Homo sapiens: one gene and its partners. The protein of the gene in region 1 purifies or fractionates together with the protein of each later gene. This does not show direct contact. Each region holds a gene or a part of one and is shown in the gene's direction. Other genes may lie near its edges.

Region 1 (4,061 bases):
TGCCATCCATGTATTGAACTTCAGTTCAGTTCCAGTATACAAATATAGCAGTATCAGAATTACATACTGGTACCCTCCTGGGAACAATTTTATCAAGTAGAGTGTACACACACACACACACACACACTTCTGAAATAATCAGTAATTTTTTAATTGCCATCGTATAGAAACTGAATATTTGGCCTTAAGGAAGATGGGATTTAGATGAGGAGTAGAATATAGAGAACTTGCTTTCTCTCTCACTGCCTTATTAGAAAGAAAGAAAAGAATGTAGAAAACTTGCTATGTTTTGCTCAGTTAATATTTGCTATCTCATTTAATTCTCACAGTTGCTCTGTAAGGTGATATTGTGATCATTTTATAGAGGAGAAAACAAAGGCTCAAAGGATTTACAGAAGAAGGGATCAAGTTGAGATTCAAGGTCAGCCTGACTCCCAGAGTCCATTCCCTTTTGAACTTGTCATCAGGTCATTTAAAATCTAGTTAAGAGAATGAAGCAGTAATATTTAAAGTCAAATAACAAGAGATATAAAGTATTTTAAGGGCAGAATGTGGTGGCTCATGCCTGTACTCCCAGCACTTTACTACGCTGAGGTAGGTGGATCACTTGAGGCTGGGAGTTTGAGACCAGCCTGGTCAACATGGTGAAACCCCCATCTCTATTAAAAAATACCAAAATTAGCTGGGTGTGGTAGCACATGCCTGTAATCCCAGCTATTCTGGAGGCTGAGGCATGAGAACCCAAGAGGTGGAGGTTGCAGAGAGCCGAGATTGTGCCATTGCACTCCAGCCTGGGCGACAGAGCGAGATGCTGTCTCAAAAAAGTAAAGTATTTTAAAGCCAGCACGGTGGCTCACACCTGTAATCCCAGCACCCTAAAAGACCAAGTGGGGAGAATCGTTTAAGTCCAGGAGTTAGAGGCCAGCCAAGGCAACACAGTTGCCTACCAAAAAACTTTTAATTACCTGGGTGTGGTGGTATATGCCTGTTGTCTTAGCTACTCAGGAGGTGAGGCCATAAGACCACTTGAGGCACTGCACTCCAGCCTGGGCAACAGAGCAAGATACCCTAACTGTTTTTTTTTTTTTTTTTTTTTTTTTTTTGAGACAAAGTCTCACTCTTGTCATCCAGGCTGGAGTCCAGTGGTGCAATCTCGGCTCACTGCAACCTTCGGCTCACGGCAACCTCCGCCTCCCAGGTTCAAGCGATTCTCCTGCTTCAGCCTCCCGAATAGCTGGGATTACAGGCGCCTGCCACCACACCTGGCTAATTTTTGTATTTTTAGTAGAGATGGGGTTTTACCATGTTGGCCAGGCTGGTCTTGAACTCCTGACCTCAGGCGATCTGCCCGCCTCGCCCTCCCAAATTACTGGGATTACAGGCATGAGCTACCGTACCTGGCCACAATCCCAACTCTTAAAAAGAAAAAAAAAAGAAATTCTGTTTTAACACTGTAATAGAAAATATAAGGCAATTATAGTATTAATTGCAAAATAAGTGTTTGGACCATAATCTTTTTTTTTTCCTTTCTTTTTGATGCCATGACTCAGATAAGAACCATGGACCATAATCTTATAGCAATGAATTTTTTTCCTCCTATGTCCTTTATGTCTTTCGTCTTTTTCCATGGTTCATGGTTTAAACAACACTGGAGTGGCCGGGCACGGTGGCTCATGCCTGTAATCCCAGCACTTTGGGAGGCTGAGGCGGGAGGATCACCTGAGGTTGGGAATTCGAAACCAGCCTGACCAACATGGAGAAACCCTGTCTCTACTAAAAATACAAAATTAGCCGGGCATGGTGGCACATGCCTGTAATCCCAGCTACTAGGGAGGCTGAGGCAGGAAAATCACTTGAACCTGGGAGGCGGAGGTTGTGGTGAGCCGAGATTGCGCCATTGCACTCCAGCCTGGGCAACAAGAGCGATACTCTGTCTCAAAATAAATAAATAAATAAATAAATAAAATAACAACACTGGAAAGCAGCTGAATTTTTTTTTTTTTTTTGAGATGGGGTCTTGCTCTGTAATCCAAGCTGGAGTGCAGTGGTATGATCACAGCTCATTGCAGCCTTGATCCCCTGGACTTAGGTGATAGCTGTAGTAGCTGGGTACCATAGGCATGTGCCACCATGCCCAGCTAATTTCTTTTTTTTTTTTCTTTTTTTTTTTTTGAGACAGAGTTTTGCTCTTGTTGCCCAGGCTGGAGTGCAATGGTGTGATCTCGGCTCACCGCAACCTCCGCCTCCCGGGTTCAAGCGATTCTCCTGCCTCAGCCTCCCGAGTAGCTGGGATTACAGGCATGTGCCACCACACCCAGCTAATTTTGTATTTTTAGTAGAGACAGGGTTTCTCCATGTCGGTCAGGCTGGTCTTGAACTCCTGACCTCAGCTAATTTCTTTTGTATTTTTTTTAGGGATAGCGTTTCACCATGTTGCCCAGGCTGGTCTCAAACTCTTGGGCTCAAGTGATCTGCCCTGCTCAGCTTCCCAAAGTGGTAGGATTACAGGCATAAGCCTGGCCCCTCTGATTTTTTACTTCAAGGTGGCCTTCTTTTTCTTCCCATTGCCTCCCACCCCTTTTCAAGCCCTTGTCAGCCATGCTGATGTTACTACCTTCTGTATTTTCTAGGAAGTGAGTGCTTTTGGTGAGGAAGGTGAAGGTGATTATCTGGATGACTGGACAGTGCTCTGTAATGGACCCTACTGGGTGAGAGATGGTGAGGTGCGGTTCAAACACTCTTCCACTGAGGTACTGCTGTCTGTCACAGGAGAACAATATGGTCGACCTATCAGTGGGCAAAAAGAGGTGCATGGCATGGCCCAGCCAAGTCAGAACAACTACTGGAAAGCCATGGAAGGCATCTTCATGAAGCCCAGTGAGTTGTTGAAGGCAGAAGCCCACCATGCAGAGCTGTGAATCTAGAGGCTCTGAGCCACTGTTAACGCACAATGTTCACAGACATCTGTTGCTGCCTCACCTTGGGATCCCTGCCACAAGTTCCTTGGGCAGTGGCCATGTCACCATTGAGATGAAGATATACAACAGAAAATAGTGGCTGTGTTTGGAAGCTTCAGCCCTGCACATTTGAACTAGTCACTCTCCCAGACTTGCGTGGGTCAGTTCTTTCTGAGTAGAGGACTTGCTGGTAAAGGGGCAGATGCTTTTTATTAGTACTGATAAAACAAACTGAGGGAAACATCCCTCTTAGCTGGGAAACTTTTACTCTTCAGGAGCTTGGCATCATGGACTGTTAATGTATGTGATTTTCCCCCTATTTTCTCTCTCCAAAATGATAAAAACAATAATTTTATTATGAGTCACTGTGTTGTTATTTATTAGGTGTGCTATTTCATTAGCTGCTTAATCCTTTGAGTCCTAAGACTCTTTGGAGACGCTATGAAGCTCCAATGTGGGCCCTTTTAAGAGCTTTTCTTGCATACAAACCTTTTCTCCCTCTACTTTGACTTCTCTCCAGGCATCTCATCTTTAATAGATCTTTGACTAATTATAGCTAAAAACTCTCAGAGAATACAGCATAATAAATAGCCAGTGAAATGTTTGCTTTGTATCTGTTACTGCAGATGAGAAAAAGGTGTAGGGGTAGAAAGAACGAACCAGTATTTATTCACTGCTAAATACTAGGTACCATATTATAGATCTTTTTTTTTATTTATTGTTTTTTAGACAGAGTCTCGGTCTGTCGCCCAGGCTGGAGTGCAGTGGCGCGATCTCGGCTCACTGCAAGTTCCACCTCCTGGGTTCACAACCATCCTCCTGCCTCAGCCTCCCAAGTAGCCGGTGCTACAGGCACCCGCCACCACGCCAGGGTAATTTTTTTGTATTTTTAGTAGAGACAGGGTTTCACTGTATTAACTAGGATGGTCTCGATCTCCTGACCTCATGATCCGCCCGCCTCAGCCTCCCAAAGTGCTGAGATTACAGGCGTGAGCCACCGCACCCGGCCTATAGATCTTACCTCATTTAATCTTCACAGAATTCATATAGGGTAATACTGCATTTTTATCAGTGCAGCAGTTGAGTAACTGCCTGAATTCTTTT
Region 2 (3,500 bases), on another chromosome or scaffold:
TAGTTAATAAACAAGCTGTGTGACATTAAGCTATGTTTCTCTCTAGCTTTCTGGAGATAGTACTGAATTCCCAAAACACAGCGTGATTTATTTTTTGTGATAGTGTGCATCAGCAAAAGGGCATATATTAGATGCTTGGAAAATGCTTTGCTATAGATTTATGTCTTTTTACTATTTGTCTTCATATATAATTATTGGGGGCAACTTTAGTTTTTTCTATTTCTCTTTTCAGAAAGAATAACAATTTTTTCGCCTTCTTATCTATATGTTTCATTGTGGACTATCAGTACTGTTCTTCATTTAAAATGCAAATGTTCTAATAATCTACAATCATAACCTTATGGTAGAACTGATACAGACATTGTAATCTCTAAGCCTCTGAAAATAGTGTTCTGCATTTTTATTGTAATCTCTAAGCCTCTGAAAATAGTGTTCTGCATTTTTATTCTAGAAGAGAGCTACTGCTCCTCATCAATGAGAGAGTGGGATTAAAAGGAACATGAGTAAGGATTATATTTGCAGAGCCTATCTATTTATTCAACAGTATTGTTGAATAATAACATTTCTTAAGTATCATCTTCCCTCAATATATGTGGGGGATTGGTTCCAGAATCGCCCTCCCCCCGCCACTGCATATTCCAAAATTCATGCATACTGAAGTCCCACAGTTGCTTCTAGGACATCAGCCATTCCGGTACTTGGGTTTTGTGGCGGGCAAATACTATATTTTTTATCTGTGGTTGGTTCAAAAAAAATTCACACATAAGTGGACCCCCCACAGTTCAAACTCATGTTCAAGGTTTAGCTGTATCTATTTTGTAGCAGAATCTAGGGAAACTTAGAAAGAGAATGACCTTTTCTATGAAACTTAATTTTGTTTCAGACAATAACATTCTGATAAGAGCTGAGTTTTACTCTTTTGTTAGCACTGTCAGTTTTCTCAACCATAGAATGAGAATGATAAAATAACCATCTCGGCTGGGCACGGTAGCTCACTCCTCTAATCCCAGCACTTTGGGAGGCCGAGGTGGGCGGATCACCTGAGGTTGAGAGTTCGAGACCAGCCTGACCAACAGGAAGAAACCCTGTCGCTACTAAAAATACAAAATTAGCCGGGTGTGGTGGTGCACGCCTGTAATCCCAGGTACTCGGGAGGCTGAGGCAGGAGAATCACTTGAACCCAGGAGGTGGAGGTTGCGGTGAGCCGAGATCGCGCCATTGCACTCCGGCCTGGGCAACAAGAGCGAAACTCCATCTCAGAAACAAACAAAACAAAAAACAAAATAACCATCTCATAAAGTTCTTGTGAAGAGTAAATAAGATAGTACATTTAAAGTACTTAACCCAGCACCTGGCATACAACAAACACTTCGTTATTTTAGATTTACTGTGAGACTTCGTCCAAAGTTACCTCTTAGGTATTTATTTTCCTCTGTTCCTCCCTTCTTATTTTTCTCCAAATTGTCATCAAAGATAAATTTCTAAAACAAAAATCTGATTGTATAACTACCTCTTTGATACCATCTTTTCAGCTTTGAAAACCTTTAGTGGTTTCCTGTTGTCTGAAGAGGAATGCCTCAAATACATGGATGGTATTCAGCATCTTCCCACGTGGCCCTAGCCTTCCTTCCCAAACCATCTTCTGCCTTGACCACCCACTGGGTTGCAGCCCAAGTAGGCCACACAGTTTTATTTTGCTACCTTGGCTTGTTGTCTTCCTTCTGTCTAGAATTCCTGCTGTGGGCCTCACCTCCTCATCACCCCACAACCTGAAGAAACAACTGTCTATGGGAAACTCAAAGATTTCTCTTCTTTCTAGGCAGAATTTTTGGTTCCTGTTCATTCATCTCTTTTTAGCATTTATTATGATATCAAAGGTAATTCTATATGTCTTGCTCTCTTACTAGCTCATGAGTTCCTTCAGAGCAGAGGCCATAGTTTATTCATCATTGTGATAACATTGATGAGTGCCACTAGAACTCAGTAGGCACTCTGTAAAAATTTGTTGAAGTAATGTATTAATATTTGGTTTAATTTTATTTTGATTTCAGTGTGTTTTTATTCTAGGTCCTTGGCCTTGTCCAAAACATGAGTGTTTTCCAGTGTCCAAAATGTAAACACAAAACTCATATTTTTGGTGCTGATGGTGCAAGGAAACTAGCACAGACCCTTGGTCTTGAAGTTCTAGGTAAGACTGTGGGATGTTCTTTTGTAGAAGAAGTGGCAGAAGAGAAAGTGGGGATGAGGCTTGATGATTAAGAGTGTCTCAGAGGCCGGGCACGGAGTCTCACACCTGTAATCCCAGCACTTTGGGAGGTCGAGGTGGACAGATCACGAGGTCAGGAGATCGAGACCATCCTGGCTAACATGGTGAGACCCTGTCTCTACTAAAAATACAAAAAATTATCCAGGCGTGGTGGCGGGCGCCTGCAGTCCCAGCTACTCAGGAGGCTGAGGCAGGAGAATGGCATGAACCCTGGAGGCGGAGCTTGCAGTGAGCTGAGATAGCACCACTGCACTCCAGCCTGGGTGACAGAGTGAGACTCCATCAAAAAAAAAACAAAAAACAAAAAACAGTGTCTCTGAAAATGATGAGTTGCTTTTGGCTTTGTGTTTTAAATTAATATAGCACAGTTCTATGTGTTAACCTTTCTTTGGCTTTTTTGAATAGGTTTGTTCTGTCAACTATGATAATTTCTATTTTAAATAAAAACTGTCTATAACTTAAATTTGAGAATAGAGTTTTGTAGTCCAAGTACTGTAATTTGAAGCCATATTTTAAATGATACTCATCAGTGTGTTTGCTAAGTTGGGTGTACATCTCTCAGTAGAAACAGGTACATTAAAATGTCTGTTCCGTATGTTGTAAAAACCTCTAAAAGTGTTCGTTCTTAGTGCATATGTAAAAATGCCTTCCTGATTAATTCTTTGTTAGTCTTTCTGCTTTAGAATGGCAGTATTTACTGTTTTCTGTAATATTTAATGTGTTTGATATGTCTTTAAAATATGGCACCTGAAATTTACATTGTACGCACTGTTCATGGCACTGAACTGAAGAGTTCATTAGTGCTGTGAGGAAAACTAAAATCATGTGTTAAATAAGCAAAACACAGGTTTTGGATAAAACATGATGTTCCAAAAATCCACAGGCAACTTAACAGACTTTTTAGAAAACATGTTTTGATATTCTAATTGTGAATGGGTTTCTGTTCTTGCCAAAGGCAGGTGTTAGATGCTGAATAGGGAAGGCATAAAGTGAATTATTAGACTTAGGTAGTTAAAAATTAAGATCCCTAGAGATTAAGGAATTTCAAAACATTCTCTGTTATAATTAAGTTTCTAAAAGTTGATGTTAAATATATTATTGTTATGCATTTGCACTATAGCAGCCACTACAATACCAGGTGAATACTAATGATATATTTTGATACATTGCTATAATTATAGCCACTAATTATATTCTGCAACTGTTTTTCATTTAACCCAGAAAGTTCAATTTT
Region 3 (2,321 bases), on another chromosome or scaffold:
GATGGCTGGTGATGGCATTCACGGCCACAGGTGCCATTCCCTGAGTCCCCTGCACATGCCAGCCACTCTGCCAGCCCCTCTGTCCACATCATTCGGTCAGCATCACCATCACTATGAACACGTGTTTACCCAGCTGCCTAATGATCTCGGAGGGGCTGGGCTCACCCCCACCCAAGCCCACCCTCCAATCCTGTCTCCCCCATTGTCTCCAGCAAGGTGATTGAGCACTGCAGTAACTTTAAAGAGGAGAACATGGACACGTCTAGATAGAGGCCTCCGTCCCCATGGCCGCCACCGCTCTGGACCACAGGCGGGGAGGAAGCATGCTCAAGCAGCCCAGCGGGCGGGCCCCTTCCGAGGGAGCCTCCCACGGAGTGAAGAGACATGGGGGACTTTTGCACAACCGACGCTTTTCCTTAATGTTAGTGAGATATATATATATTATATATATATATTTTTTTTTTGGTTAGGAAGTGTGAAGTTTTGTGTGTATGATTTCTGTGCAAAAACAAAAGCAACACTCCTGAGTCCTTGCAGCTTCCTTGGCCATTCTCAAACCCACTCAGCCTTCATCGCTGACACACACACTCCTACCCCAACCAGACTAAATGCCTATAACGCTGTGAGTGTCCAGTCCTTGTCCAGGAAACTCAGATCCCGGCCTGGCTTCCTTTCATGAGAGGAGCAGGCCTTGGACAGCGTATCGAGCATCCTGACCCACTGCCCCTGCCTGAGAACGCCATCTCGGCTCCCGGGCACAGCTGATGGGGTTTGGGGATTAGAACTTACCCCACTGGGTCTCCCAAAAGCCTTGGTGCTCCCGGCTGTGGGCCATCTGGGGCAGGAAAGTGAGCCATTCCTAGGCTGAGGTCCAGGCAGCCCTGCCCCTGAAGACCCTCTAGGAGCAGGGCACCCAGTGGCCCTGCTGCTGTCCAGCCAGGCCTGCCTGAGGCCACGCTGCTATGGAGGCTGCCTCCTAGTCTCCCACCAGGTCCCAGGCTGTGGAAAGCCCCAGCCCAGGGATGGTCAGAACTCAGGGGCAGATTCCACTGCCCCTTCTGCCAAACACATCCAGAACCTGCCCTCAGCCCTGGAAGCTAGCATCTTCTGGGGCCAGGGGCTTGCTTCCTCGCTCCATAGCCCTCAACTGCCCAGGCGCTCCCACCAGCAGAACTGAGCCTGCCTCCTCCTCCCAGCCTGCCCCGCTGCCCAGAGGACCCCACGCCTCTCAGAGGCAGAGGTCCCATGACAGCCTTTGACCCACAACGGCCACACAGCCGCCTCCAGACCAGCACTCGGACTGCCCTGCAGTGGCCGCTTGGGCCTCCCTGGCGGTCCCGCCCTGCCCTAGGCTTTACCTTGGAAGCCTGAGAGGCGCCGGCTCTCTTGCTCCTCCATCGATGGACACTGCATTGCTTCTCATCGGACACTTGTGGAGCGCAGGGGCCTGGGGAGCAGCGCTAACCCTGGAGGCAGCCTTTGGGTGATGGCTTTTTCTTCCCTTTTCCTCCCGCGGGCCTGTTTTCAGGTGTTCCTAGCATTTCTGCCTCCAGGCAGGACGGCAGGGGTGAGCAGCTTTGGGAGAGACACCTGGCCTTTTTCTCCTGGAGCCTCTCCCTCCCGGCCCTGGGAAGTGGGCGCAGCCCTGTGTTCCCCCAGCTTGGCAGATGGGCTGCATGCGGCGCTCCCTTCCTTCCCACGCTCAGCGGCCCCGGCCAGACCCTGGCAGACTTCACACCTCATTGCTTTACCCCCTGGGGCCTGGGGAAATGTCTGTACTTTGGGAAGTCACAGAAATACATTTTTGTGCAAAATGGAAAACAGAGCGTCTTTTTTTGTGGAGGGGATTGCTAGCCTGGCTTCCAGGCTCTGGAGCAGGGCTTGAGCCACCCCTGGCAGGGGGGCTGCAGTGTAGGTAGTTCTGTGGTAGGGAGGGGTGCGTTTGGTGGGTTAAAGGGCTGCAGGCTGGGGACAGGTGGCAGGGGACTGAGCTGGAGTACCTGTTTCCTATGTGTTCTCTTCACATCCCTGTGCCCACTGAGGACACAGCTGGCAACCAGACCAACAGGGTGCCTGCCTAAGATGGCTCAGCCTGATGGGGGAGACAGATGGCAAATAGAAGATTACAACTCTGTGCCACCATCAGGGAGAAGGCAGCGGAGGAGGTGCCTCCTGCCAGTGGATGGGAGTGGGCAGGCGGATCAGGGAAGCTTGGAGTCCGCTGGGCCACAGTGCTTTGGGGAGAGGGGGAGGAGCCAGCACGATGTCCCCATGTGTCTGGGAGGCTTCTTACAAGAGGACAGAGTGGAGCCAAACCCAGG
Region 4 (3,500 bases), about 14 Mb from region 1:
TAAGGCCTGGACCAAACTGCCCCTTTCTTGTAGCATTTGGTGCTAGCAAAACACTGGAGTTGAGTGAGAACTGGATTCCAGTCTCAGCTCTACCACTACACAGAGATGTGACCTCGGATGGGGCACTTCCGAGCCTCAGTTCCCTCCTTGTAAACACACACACACAGACGCACACACATTGTATCTCATTAGCTTTTCATAACACCCGCACATGAAATAGAAGCAGCTCATGTGTTCCCAGTTTTACAGACAGGAAGCCAGGCTAAATGGCTTACCCTGTCACACACTCGCCAATGGCTGTTGATCTATTCGCCCACTCTCCCTGATTGCCCTGGGCTTTGTTACACGCTGCTGCTCTGCCTAGGAGCTTGGACTCCATGGAGTTCTCCTGGCTTGAGGTTTCACTCTGTCCTGCCCCACCCTCAGGCAGCAGCCCTATCCAGCCAAGACCAGGTCACACCACCGTGAGCGCAGGCGGAGTCCTCAATGACCAGCACTGGCACTATGTGCGGGTGGACCGATTTGGCCGCGATGTAAATTTCACCCTGGACGGCTATGTGCAGCGCTTTATTCTCAATGGAGACTTCGAGAGGCTGAACCTGGACACTGAGGTGAGAGACTAGGGAGGTGCTATTTCGTGGTAGGGTAGATGCTGGATGAGTGAGTGCAGGTCGGTCTCTCCCTTTCTCTTTTCCTCTGTCTCTCAGAGGAAAGACCTGGCATTCAGGCTGTGGGTGGTGGCTCATGCCTGTAATCCCAGCACTTTGGGAGGCTGAGGTGGGAGGATTGCTTGAGGCCAGGTGTTCAAGACTCACCTGGGCAACATAGTGACATCCTACCTCTATTTAAAAAAATTTTTTTTTTCAAAGACCTCGCATTCCAATTCCTGAATATCCTAGCAGCCCTTGGCAAACTTGCCACTCACCAGAAAAAGGCCTGTTTTTTTTTTTTTTTTTTTTTTTTGTGGGTGTTGTTGCTGTTAGCATGCAGACTCCCAGGCACTATTTCAGAACTAATGAGATGGGGTTTGGAAATTCAGATTTTGGGGACTAGGCAAGGTAGGAAAATTGTTCCCTTGGATCCTCCCACAACTTTGTGGAGTTGTTAAAGACCCTGACCCCATCTGCAGATAAGAATCCCAGGCAGGCTAATTGACTTGCCCAAGGGCGTGCAGCCGATTTGTGTTGGAGTCAGAGCTTGAACTCAAGCCTTGAAAGGCCTAGCGAGCTTTAGTACCGACACTGGGGAAATGTGTGTTTTAAGTCTTTTACAAAACCCCATCTGGCATTTGGGAAAGCATACGGCGGGGACGCGCGAGAAAGGCAGGCGCCCTCCTGTGCCCAAGAGGCCTCATTCCCCACGCCTCCCGCAGATGTTCATCGGAGGTCTGGTGGGCGCCGCGCGGAAGAACCTGGCCTATCGGCATAACTTCCGCGGCTGCATAGAAAACGTAATCTTCAACCGCGTCAACATCGCAGACCTGGCCGTGCGGCGCCATTCCCGGATCACCTTCGAGGCCAGTGGGCAGGGGGGTCTGGGAGGACAGGATATCAAAGCGTCGTGGAAAGCAAAGAGGTGGAGCGGGAAGAGATATTGAACATCAGATAAAAGCGGAGAATCCCTCTGTCCCCAGCCAGATGCTCAAGTTGGGAGGGGAGCGGGTCTCACCTGAGGTGCATGAGCCACGCAGGCCCCTAGTTAAGAAGCAGTGGTCGGGTCCAATCACCTTCTTAGTTCATAGATGAAGAAAGTAAGGCGCAGACACAGGGAGTGGCTTGTCCAGGGGTCGTGCAGCTGCACGGTGGCTGAGTAGGGACTTGAACCGATGGCTTCTCTGATATGCCCCCCTCAACCCTCTCCGACTCTGGAGCTCTGTTGGGAAGCTGGCAGGAGCCAGGTCTGTGGTCCAAAATTGCCTCTCGATACTGGAAGGAGAGAAGCGGTCGAATCGCAGACGGTGGAGATCAGCGAGAGCAAGCGAGCAGAGTTCCGAGGGCCGACTGGGTTGGGGCCCCCTCCACAGATGGACGAGCTTGGAGGGGAAGAGGTCACGTCATGGTTGGAGATCTCACCCCCGCCAACACCGAAGGAGGGCGGTGACCAGGGTCTTAGACCGGTGTGAAAACTGAATTCCCAGCTGAGGCAGAGGCGGCTCACGGGTGTTGATGCGTCTTCACTTTTGCCCCTAGGGTAAGGTGGCTTTTCGTTGCCTGGACCCGGTACCGCACCCTATCAACTTCGGAGGCCCTCACAACTTCGTTCAAGTGCCCGGTTTCCCACGCCGTGGCCGCCTGGCAGTCTCATTTCGCTTCCGCACCTGGGACCTCACCGGGCTTCTCCTTTTCTCCCGTCTGGGGGACGGGCTGGGCCACGTGGAGCTGACGCTCAGCGAAGGGCAGGTCAACGTGTCCATCGCGCAGAGCGGCCGAAAGAAGCTTCAGTTCGCTGCTGGTGAGGGCGTTTCGGGGGAGGCACAAGAAGAGAAGAGAAGTGTAGAGGATCCCAGGAAAGTTGTAGGCCTGGACTGAGGCCTTTACATTCTGGAGAGGGGAGAGGAGTGAAGGGGGCAGGGCAGGAGGCCCCAGGGTACTGGGAAAAGGTGGGAGTGGCTAGAGGCAGTGAGGAGGCGAATCTGAGGGACTAAGTATTCTTGGAGAAGGGGGAAGCCTGGGAGTCCTGGTATTCTCCAGTTCCAGAAGGCCCCTGGAGATTTGGTTACTCGTTTATAACTGTGCAGACTCTGTGGCAGTTGCTGGGTCATGGATAATGAAGAGACATTCAGAGAGGTCTCCACTGGGTGTGAGAAGTGTAATCACGGGGGCACACAGGCTGCTACTGGGACACAGTGGGGCTGCTGCTTCCCCACTCAGAACATTCTTCTACCCTAGTTGCTGCTTCCCTCCACCCACACCATCATCCATTCTTGTCCAGGGTACCGACTGAATGACGGCTTTTGGCACGAGGTGAATTTTGTGGCACAGGAAAACCATGCAGTTATCAGCATTGATGATGTGGAAGGGGCAGAGGTCAGGGTCTCATACCCGTTGCTGATCCGGACAGGGACCTCATATTTCTTTGGGGGTAAGTGGGGGCCAACCTGACCAGACCTCTGTTTCTGGGTGGGAAGGCTCCATCTAAGTCCACCCAGATGGGGCCACATGGAGAATTTTGGAGGGATCAAGCCCTCTTCCCCTCTGGGGCCTCAGGGAGTGGAAGGTCATTGCCATCTACACTTTGGTTGTAGTCCCCTTTCTTCCTTTATGTCTGGCTCCCCCTCAGCATGTCCCTGGGGGAGGGTCTTTGGGGTCTCCCCTGGGGAGGATCTCACAGGGGTGGTTGCTCCAGGTTGTCCCAAGCCAGCCAGTCGATGGGACTGCCACTCCAACCAGACGGCATTCCATGGCTGCATGGAGCTGCTCAAGGTGGATGGTCAACTGGTCAACCTGACTCTGGTGGAGGGCCGGCGGCTTGGATTCTATGCTGAGGTCCTCTTTGATACA

Evidence for each region. Proteins that work in one complex are often made in the same cells at the same time.
Region 2: the proteins of SDF2 (region 1) and NUBPL purify together in Homo sapiens (affinity purification with mass spectrometry; one large-scale study listed by BioGRID and IntAct). This does not show direct contact.
Region 3: the proteins of SDF2 (region 1) and ZER1 purify together in Homo sapiens (affinity purification with mass spectrometry; one large-scale study listed by BioGRID and IntAct). This does not show direct contact.
Region 4: the proteins of SDF2 (region 1) and CNTNAP1 purify together in Homo sapiens (affinity purification with mass spectrometry; one large-scale study listed by BioGRID and IntAct). This does not show direct contact.

The regions. Positions count from the first base shown.
Region 1 is NC_000017.11:28,647,846-28,651,906, reverse strand, and holds the end of SDF2 (stromal cell-derived factor 2 precursor), read left to right. Parts: intron 1-364; coding exon of another isoform or gene 365-421; intron 422-2,630; coding exon 2,631-2,918; 3' UTR 2,919-3,561; downstream 3,562-4,061.
Region 2 is NC_000014.9:31,844,404-31,847,903, forward strand, and holds part of NUBPL (iron-sulfur cluster transfer protein NUBPL isoform 1 precursor), read left to right. Parts: intron 1-2,067; coding exon 2,068-2,188; intron 2,189-3,500.
Region 3 is NC_000009.12:128,729,286-128,731,606, reverse strand, and holds the end of ZER1 (protein zer-1 homolog), read left to right. Parts: intron 1-212; coding exon 213-270; 3' UTR 271-1,821; downstream 1,822-2,321. UniProt on the Homo sapiens protein: Serves as substrate adapter subunit in the E3 ubiquitin ligase complex ZYG11B-CUL2-Elongin BC. Acts to target substrates bearing N-terminal degrons for proteasomal degradation with the first four residues of substrates being the key recognition elements.
Region 4 is NC_000017.11:42,685,531-42,689,030, forward strand, and holds part of CNTNAP1 (contactin-associated protein 1 precursor), read left to right. Parts: intron 1-426; coding exon 427-611; intron 612-1,372; coding exon 1,373-1,516; intron 1,517-2,189; coding exon 2,190-2,451; intron 2,452-2,931; coding exon 2,932-3,081; intron 3,082-3,345; coding exon 3,346-3,500. UniProt on the Homo sapiens protein: Required, with CNTNAP2, for radial and longitudinal organization of myelinated axons. Plays a role in the formation of functional distinct domains critical for saltatory conduction of nerve impulses in myelinated nerve fibers.